Homo sapiens: one gene and its partner. The protein of the gene in region 1 binds, or shares a complex with, the protein of each later gene. Each region holds a gene or a part of one and is shown on either strand. Other genes may lie near its edges. The genes, in order: WDR48 and USP46. A codon is read from its position in the direction of its gene.

What was found.
Region 2: the proteins of WDR48 (region 1) and USP46 are in contact, whole or in part, in a crystal structure (PDB 6JLQ), measured with the Homo sapiens proteins. Residues at the interface, in NP_065890.1 of Homo sapiens: Arg50, Trp77, Asp118, Tyr119, Lys121, Leu137, Arg139, Ser170, Tyr172, Thr188, Asp211, Asn212, Lys214, Ser230, Gly254, Trp256, Arg272, Ile364, Leu424 (codon at 1,282), Lys425 (codon at 1,285), Gly521; in NP_073743.2 of Homo sapiens: Arg181, Leu183, Asn184, Cys185, Glu186, Thr187, Cys222, Ser223, Glu224, Lys226, Cys232, Cys233, Ser234, Lys235, Gln236, Glu237, Gln239.

The regions. Positions count from the first base shown.
Region 1 is NC_000003.12:39,082,970-39,086,879, forward strand, and holds part of WDR48 (WD repeat-containing protein 48), read left to right. Parts: intron 1-1,185; coding exon 1,186-1,293; intron 1,294-1,675; coding exon 1,676-1,772; intron 1,773-2,545; coding exon 2,546-2,641; intron 2,642-3,331; exon of another isoform or gene 3,332-3,415; intron 3,416-3,910. UniProt on the Homo sapiens protein: Regulator of deubiquitinating complexes, which acts as a strong activator of USP1, USP12 and USP46. Enhances the USP1-mediated deubiquitination of FANCD2; USP1 being almost inactive by itself.
Region 2 is NC_000004.12:52,657,256-52,661,165, reverse strand, and holds the start of USP46 (ubiquitin carboxyl-terminal hydrolase 46), read left to right. Parts: upstream 1-1,864; 5' UTR 1,865-2,015; coding exon 2,016-2,051; intron 2,052-2,884; exon of another isoform or gene 2,885-2,992; intron 2,993-3,910. UniProt on the Homo sapiens protein: Deubiquitinating enzyme that plays a role in behavior, possibly by regulating GABA action. May act by mediating the deubiquitination of GAD1/GAD67.

The DNA of each region.
Region 1 (3,910 bases):
AGTATATGATTTTAAAAAGTTGCGGGGGAGTAAGAAAATGAAGAGCCAGTGGCAGCTCCAGAACTAATTGAGTGTTTCAAGAAGAAGCTTGCGGTTAGTGGCATTAACCTGCTGTGAGTTGATTTAAGATGTGACTAACATCATGGATTTAAATAAAGAGGGTGGCCTCTGGGTAGAGTCTTAAGGGCAAAAGCCAGGTAGAGTGAGTTGAGTAGTGATTTGAAGGTGAAGAAACAGAAAATTTGACTGGATAATCTTTGAAGAAATTTGATTGGAGGGGTAGGCAGGAAGCGGCGGAAACTAGAGAAGATGTAGGAGTCAGAGGGCCAAAGGAAGCTTTTGATTTTGTTTGGTTTTGTTTGGATATTTGGGTATTTTTCAGATGTAAGAAATTTGAGCATATTTCATTGCTCCTGGGAAGAAGCCAGTAGAGACATTCATGGGTAGATGACAATACAAGGTCATCCCAAGAAGCAAGAGGTGAGGGGGACCGGAGCACAGTCAGAAGGGACACCGTTTTCCTTGCACCAGGGAGAATGATAGAGAAAGTTAAGGGGATTCTGTCAAGGCTTCTCTTTGTTTTGAGAAAAAGGAATCAGAGTCATGTGCTGAGGATAATGGGGAAGGTGGCAAGGTCAGAGGTAGAAGAGAGATTTAGTTGAGATGGACTGCAAGACAGTGACCCCAGGGCTCAAGTCTCCAGTAAATGAGGGAGAGTGGCAGGTTGCTAGATGGCAGTGAAGGAAAGGTGTACCGTTTACTGTTGCTAAATGACATAGGCCTCAGAGAAATAAGTTTTTACATGGGAGATGGTAGAGTAATGGTCTCCATGGAGCATCAAGGAACAATGGGATGTGGGAAAATAAGCAGTCCCCCTTTGAGAAGATGGCCGACAACTGGGACCCTCGAAAGAGCCACGTTGCTGTTAAGATGAGGTGGTATATTATATCAATATCAGCACAATTAAATACAGTTTCTTCCCAAATACTATTTTGTGCTTTTTTAATTTAAATTTTTTATAGCAGCAGATTGTTATTTTAAAAAAGGACCACATTCTTTTTGAAATGTATTTTAGACTGTTTCACTTAGACACATGTGAAAATATGTAAAATTTTGAATAGCAAAGTCAGAATCAAGTGAATTCACCACTTAATATTGATCATTATACTTTCTTTTGATGTATAGGCATGTAAAGTTGAAGATCTGGGCAAAGTGGATTTTGAAGATGAAATTAAGAAAAGATTTAAAATGGTGTATGTGCCAAATTGGTTCTCAGTAGACTTAAAAACAGGGGTAAGTTAGCAATTGATACTTGTATGATTTGGGATAATTGAAGATTTTCATTATAGCTTATAATTATTATTAGTTACAGAGTCCTGTGTTTTTAGGTGTGAAAAAAAAAATTTGTGTTAAAACTTAAAATGCAAAATGGAATAAAAAAGAAAAAAACAAAATTAAAAATATATTAAAAAAGAAAAAAATTTAAAAGTTACAAAATGCCTTTGGTATCCCAGGAAACTAAATTGTGTTGTTGCATTGAATCACACAAAACACATTTTGGTTCCTGAATTTATGACTTAGCACTTTAGTCAAATAGTACAAATAAATGAAGGTTTAGAGACTTGTTTGGAGAATATATTCAAATGGGATGCCACTAAGTTTTTTCTTTTGATAGATGTTAACTATTACTTTGGATGAAAGTGATTGTTTTGCTGCCTGGGTTTCTGCAAAAGATGCTGGTTTCAGCAGCCCTGATGGGTCAGATCCAAAATGTGAGTTTAAGTGTCCTTCATTTTTTTCCTCCCTTCTAAAGAGAAGATGAATATGAGCTGTTTTTTGCTAAGTACTTATCTTTGTAAAAGTTCTCTATATTTTGTTGACTATGTCCTAAAAATGTGGTATGTACAAATACCTAATGTATACAAATCATTTTAGTAATTTCATATGGAAATAGCCGTTTAAAGAATCTGATTCTCGGCCAGGCGCAGTGGCTCACACCTGTAATCTCAGCACTTTGGGAGGCCGAGGCGGGTGGATCACGAGGTCAGGGGATCGAGACCATCCTGGCTAACACGGTGAAACCCCGTCTCTACTAAAAATACAAAAAATTAGCCGGGCGTGGTGGCGGGTGCCTGTAGTCCCAGCTATTCGGGAGGCTGAGGCAGGAGAATGGCGTGAACCCGGGAGGCGGAGCTTGCAGTGAGCCGAGATTGCACCACTGCGCTCCAGCCTGGGTGACAGAGCGAGACTCTATCTCAAAAAAAAAAAAAATCTGATTCTCATGTTTGTTTTTAAATAATAGCTGTATCTGAACAACCAAGTAGAATATGTCTTTGCTCCATAGCATCATTGCTTTAAACATTCTAAGATAAAATTTTAGCAGAATTGGCAAAATGACTAAAGTCTTTATTTTAGACATCATTCGCATTGGGTTAAGAATGTAACATCAGAATATGTACAAACTTACAATTTTTATTCTATTTTTAGGTTAAAGCCAAGTAACTCGCTTTTCCATTTTATCTCTTTTTAATTAACTTTTTTGCAGTGAATTTAGGAGGACTTTTACTCCAAGCACTCCTGGAATATTGGCCTAGAACACATGTGAATCCAATGGATGAAGAGGAAAATGAAGTAAACCATGGTTAGTTTTTATATTCAGATAGTTGCATAAAAAGTTAGAGGTACTTACTTAAAAGGTACTTACTAAAAGGTACTTACTTAAACCGTTAGCTAAAATATTTGTGGTGTACTCAGTTTATTGTCCTCTCTTCCATATCTCAAAGTAGGAACATCCATCCAGTCTTAACTGAGACTGAGATTCCAAAAGAGCAGACCACCTTATGATATGGCTTTTAGTGAGACTGCTCAAGATAAATAAAATACTCTATATTCAGATGACTTTTGTCTTAAAATGAGGCACCTTAACAGACTTATTTCCAAAATATTCTTCAAGGTACCTCTGATCTTTTGGATTAACCTCCAAAGCTAGGTAGTTAGCTGCATCAGAAAGCCAGGTTTGTCATTGCATAGTCACTCTTCATGTTGGGCTGAAATGTTGGTATTTCCTAGTCTCATGGCCTACCTGATTTTGACTCTGTTTCAAAAAAAAATTCAAATTCCAACTCAGAAGTGACAGGGCATATGCTCAAGCATGTGTAAAGAATTAATGTCACTGAGGACATCTGAAACGTGTGTGTGCCATAGGCAGTGGCAGTAACGTTCCCTGAGCAGCAGAGGAGAACATGTTTTGAATATATGCATTTGGCTCAGTTTGATCAAAGGAAGGGGAAACAAGAACTTAGAATTTCACATCCTCATGTGTAACCTACAGCTGGTTGAGGAATCATTGAGTCCCATCGACTGAGGCTTACTCTGCTGAAGATTCTCTGCTGGCCACCAGGAGTGAGCAACAATGGCGAGTACCTCCTGCCAGGGACTTTGTTCTGGCTGTCAGATTCACCCATAATGATATGTGGAATTTAAATCTCTCACATGAGGATGACATGCTTCCTTGAAAACCAGTCTTCTGATGTTCCTGTCAGAGAGAGGGTGCTGTTGCCCCACCCATGGTGGCTTTTCTTTTACATCACCTGACACACTTTGATCCCTGTCAGAATTGTACAGTGGACTTTGAGCTAAAGAAACTGATGGAAAAATCTTTCCACAGAGGGTCAAGAAAGCTAGGTTCTGGGGTGGGCTCTGCTGCTTAACAGCTATGTTGCTGTGGGCAAATCATTTCCAGTTAGATGGGATACTCTCAGCCACCCAAATAAGCAATAAGGATTAAGTTATCAAAACAGTGGTATAGTCATGCACCCTTTGGATCTAGGCTTTGGGTGAGGAGTATAAGGAAGACATCACCAGAAATCACGTCATCCTTAACATCAGACTGCATGGGAAAGGTAGGGCA
Region 2 (3,910 bases), on another chromosome or scaffold:
TTATTGCCTTTATAGTGGAACTTCTGTGAAATTGAGTCCTGAGATCTGAGTTTTAGCCTTGAGGTTGCTCCTGACCTTGAGACATTAATACTCAAATCTTAAAGTTTTCTGGGCCTCCGTGCTGGGATTGGTCATAGTTCAGTTGTTTCCTGTCTTCTCTCTTCTCTTCCTCTCCCAGAGTGCTCAGCCCAGGTTACCACACCAACTTAATCTGTAACATTTCGGTAAGTCATCTGGGCAGGATCCTTGATCCTCTAAGCCTTATGTGACTGATCTGCAAAAAAGGAGATAATAGCATGTACCAGCTGATAGTTATGGTGGCGATTAAAGGAGATCAGGAATGTAAACATTGGGTGCAGTGGTTCACGCCTGTTGTCCCAGCGCTTTGGGAGGCCAAGGTGGGATGATTGCTGGAGCCCAGGAGTTTGGGATGACTCGGGGCTGCCCAGCCTCAGGCTGGGCAACATAGCGAGAACCTGTCTCTTAAAAAACAGAGAGAGAGAGAAGAAAATCAGTCATGACTTACAATGGAAGAAATTATCATCAGGATGTATTTGGAAATAATATTTAGGTTGAAAGACTTAAGCAGGAATATTATTTCTCATGTCCACTGGAAAACACAGTGACATGACTCCCAAAACCTTCAGTCAACAAGTCTGTCTTACTGTTTCCTCCCCAGATTCTAGGGATATTAGCAATCAACGGCTCTCAAATCTTTACTCTTGGTTAGATAAAAGCTATCTTCAACTAATTTTTCTTCTGATTCAATTTGTCATTAAATACACTGATCTAAGAATTTATCACGCATCTCACTTGTACAATTTCTCCTTTGAAAGCATCGAATTGCAACCTTGTATGTGTAACTGTTCCACACATTCAGAAACGGGCCCCTTCAATTCGCGTGGACCTATCTGCTAAGTGGTGCACAGACTCGCGCTCTGAGCCCGCAGCCACGACCTTTAATGCGGGAAATGTGCATGATCCCATACAGCGCCCATCTCAACAACTAGAGGCTGGGTGCACCCGAGAGGGGTATGCCTGCCTTGAAGATATGGAAAAGTTTTGTTTTCGTTCTTTCCACTCCTTGGACAGTCCCTAGTGCTTGCGCGGAACCGGGACGTCTCCTTTGGACCCGCTAATGTCACAAGCCGCCCGAGCGCGCCGCTGCTGGCCTCCGCCCAGACCCGGATTCCTCCCCCTTCCCGGCGCCCTTTCTCGGGCGCCCGGCCCGCAGCTGGCGAGGGCTCTCTGACCGCTCCGGTGTCCTCGCCCCATTTTACTTCTTGGGTCCCCGCCGGTGCCATCTGGTTGGAACCCTCGGGAGGAACTAAAAGTTGGACGTCGCCACCCCTACCCCTCGCCAAAAAATAAACACCGGGGGCTGCCGAGGCCCGCCAGGAGGAAGGCGACGAGGAAAAAGCGAGGACGGAAGGCGGCCCCGGGTTCGCCCCGGCCTGGGCCGCCCGCTTCCCCACCCCGCGCACCGTACCGTCCCCGGCTCCCTGGCTCCCCGACGGCGAGGAGGGCCGCCGCTTCCGCGTCGGGGTCGGCCGGGGGACCTGCGAGGTGCGGCTGCCGCAGCGGCGCGCCCCGGAGCCTGGCCCGGCATTCCAGTCCGAATAGAAAGAGGCAGGGAATCAAATGGAAAAGCAGGAGGCCAGGCCTGGGCGGGCGAGCTGGGAAGGAGGCGGCGCGGCGGGGCCCGGGAACCCAGCCTGGAGCGCTCTGAGCGGCCGGCTCGGACTCACGCGGCGCGCCCGGGCCGCCCCTCCTCCCCGCGCCGCCGGCCGCGGCCCAGGCTCCCTCGCTCCGCCACTCCCCGCCCCTCCGCGCTCCCTCCCCGCCCTCCCCGCGCCGCCGCCTCCTCCTCCCGGCCTCCCTCTCCCAGCCAAACTGAAAGCCGGACCCCAGGCCGCCGCGCTGCCGCCCGGCCTCCCCGCCAGCGCGCCACCATGGGCAGTCCCGGTTTCCCCTTGTAAAGATGGCGGTGAGGGATCGCTGCAACCTTTAGACTAATGACTGTCCGAAACATCGCCTCCATCTGTAATATGGTGAGTGGCCGAGCCGCCTCGGGGTCGCGCCCGACTCGCGGCGAGGCAAAGAAAGGGAAGCCCGAGCTGCACACACGCCCGGTGGCTGGGGCGGCGGGGGCGGCGGGGTCCGCGCCGCCAGAAGTTCCCGGCCCCCGAGCTGGGCGCGCGGCCGCAGCCACCTCAGCGGCCGGGGAGGGTCCCCGAGCCCCCGGCGCCCGTCTCAGCCCCGGGACCTCGGAACCCGCCCGGCGATCCCGGGGCCGCGCTGCTGCGCCCCCCGCCCTCGGGTTGCGGTGGAAGCGGCTTGAGGGAAGGGAAGCGACCGAACCTGAACGTCCCCGGGGAGGGGGTGGGGGATAAGCTGGAGGTGGGGGGCACCCATCCTCTTCTTGCGGTCAAGACAGCCTTATTGGACGTCCAGACTGCCCTCATCTCATTTTGAGTTCAGTCCTTCCGAGGTGTTTAAAATTCACTTTGCAATAGCAATTGTGTATCTGGAGAAATCGGAAATGTAATAAAGCTGTAAAAAAAGTGCAAAATTGTGGCTGGAGAAGTGAACTTCAACCTGGTTTGAAAAAGCACCGTAATTTGCTCCGCATGCCTCAGTTTCCCCATCTGTGAAAAAGGGACAAGGCTCTGTGGCGGTAATATTTGCAGGCCCTAAGGGTGGGGCGGGCTGTGGGCTTGGAGGAGGTCTCCAGGGTTATCCTGCCTGATCCGCTGTAGACCTAGGGGAGGCTGGCGGGCATGGATACAGCCAGGGACATCACTGGGTTCTGATGCAGTCCGAGCCCATGATGCGGTGGTCACTTTAATTTGGGTTTCCCCCATTGCTTTCCCTTTTTCTGTAGGAAGAACCTCCAGCCCTTGGGTCCCCAGGCTGGACCCTGCTGGCGCCTCCACTTGTCAGAGCCTTTGGGGAGCTCAGATTGGAGTAAGGCATTGCTGTCCCTTGCAGGGTGAGATGATGTGTGTTTTGCCTACATTCTTTAGACTGCACCCCGCCTCCCCTCTAGCCCCCTCCCAAGCGGGTCCCCGGAGGCAACACGTGCTCTTACAGTGCCAGTTTGAGGAAAACCTCCCTTGAAGCTAGTAATACTGGCCCCTAAAGGGAATCCAAGGAAGCTTGATGGAGAAGCCCTGGTGTAAGGTGATCTGGCTGCCCTTCCCCCATCACATAGCTTTTTAAATCTTCTGTCCCACATTCTGTTGCAAGATCAACACATGGCAAAGGAGCATTAAGAAGCCTTGTGTTAGCTCAGGGGTGGAATTGAGACCCGCTGGCTTCAGCTTTCAGCACAATGGGACGTGCCACTGTCACGGCCAGCAAAGCAAATGCTGGGGCCTCCCAGAGTGATAGCTGCACAGGTACTGGTTGGTGCCGGGCGAGTTCCATACGGGGAGTGGATCCTAGAGCCTTTCTGTTTTCTCTTTTTTTCCTTTCTCTGCGAGGAGTCAGATTTCCTCTTATTCCTGTGGAGGGGCTGCTTGTGAAGAGGTGATGCCTTCTCAGTTTCTCTCCTACGACCAGTTCCTGAGGGAACTGTGAATCGGGAGCAGCTTGAATACTCTTTTATGTCTGTTGGTGTGGCCGCAGGCCTAAGGATACTACAGGGTAGTGAGGCTCCGACCCAGCCCTTGGTGGTGTTCTTGTCCTGCTTGTGTGTGGTTACACCTCTCTGTGTAGAAGCAGGCTGGAAACTTGAGAGCTAGCATGCCCCTAGAGGAAGCCAGCCCCCAACCTCCCCCCACGCGTCCCCCCACCCACCCTCAGTGCTGCGGGGGCTTTCTGGCACACCTGGGCTGAATGTCACAACGTGTTTCAGTGAAACTCAGTCAGGGAGACAGGGTGTGGGGAGGACCTGAGAGGAGCAGGC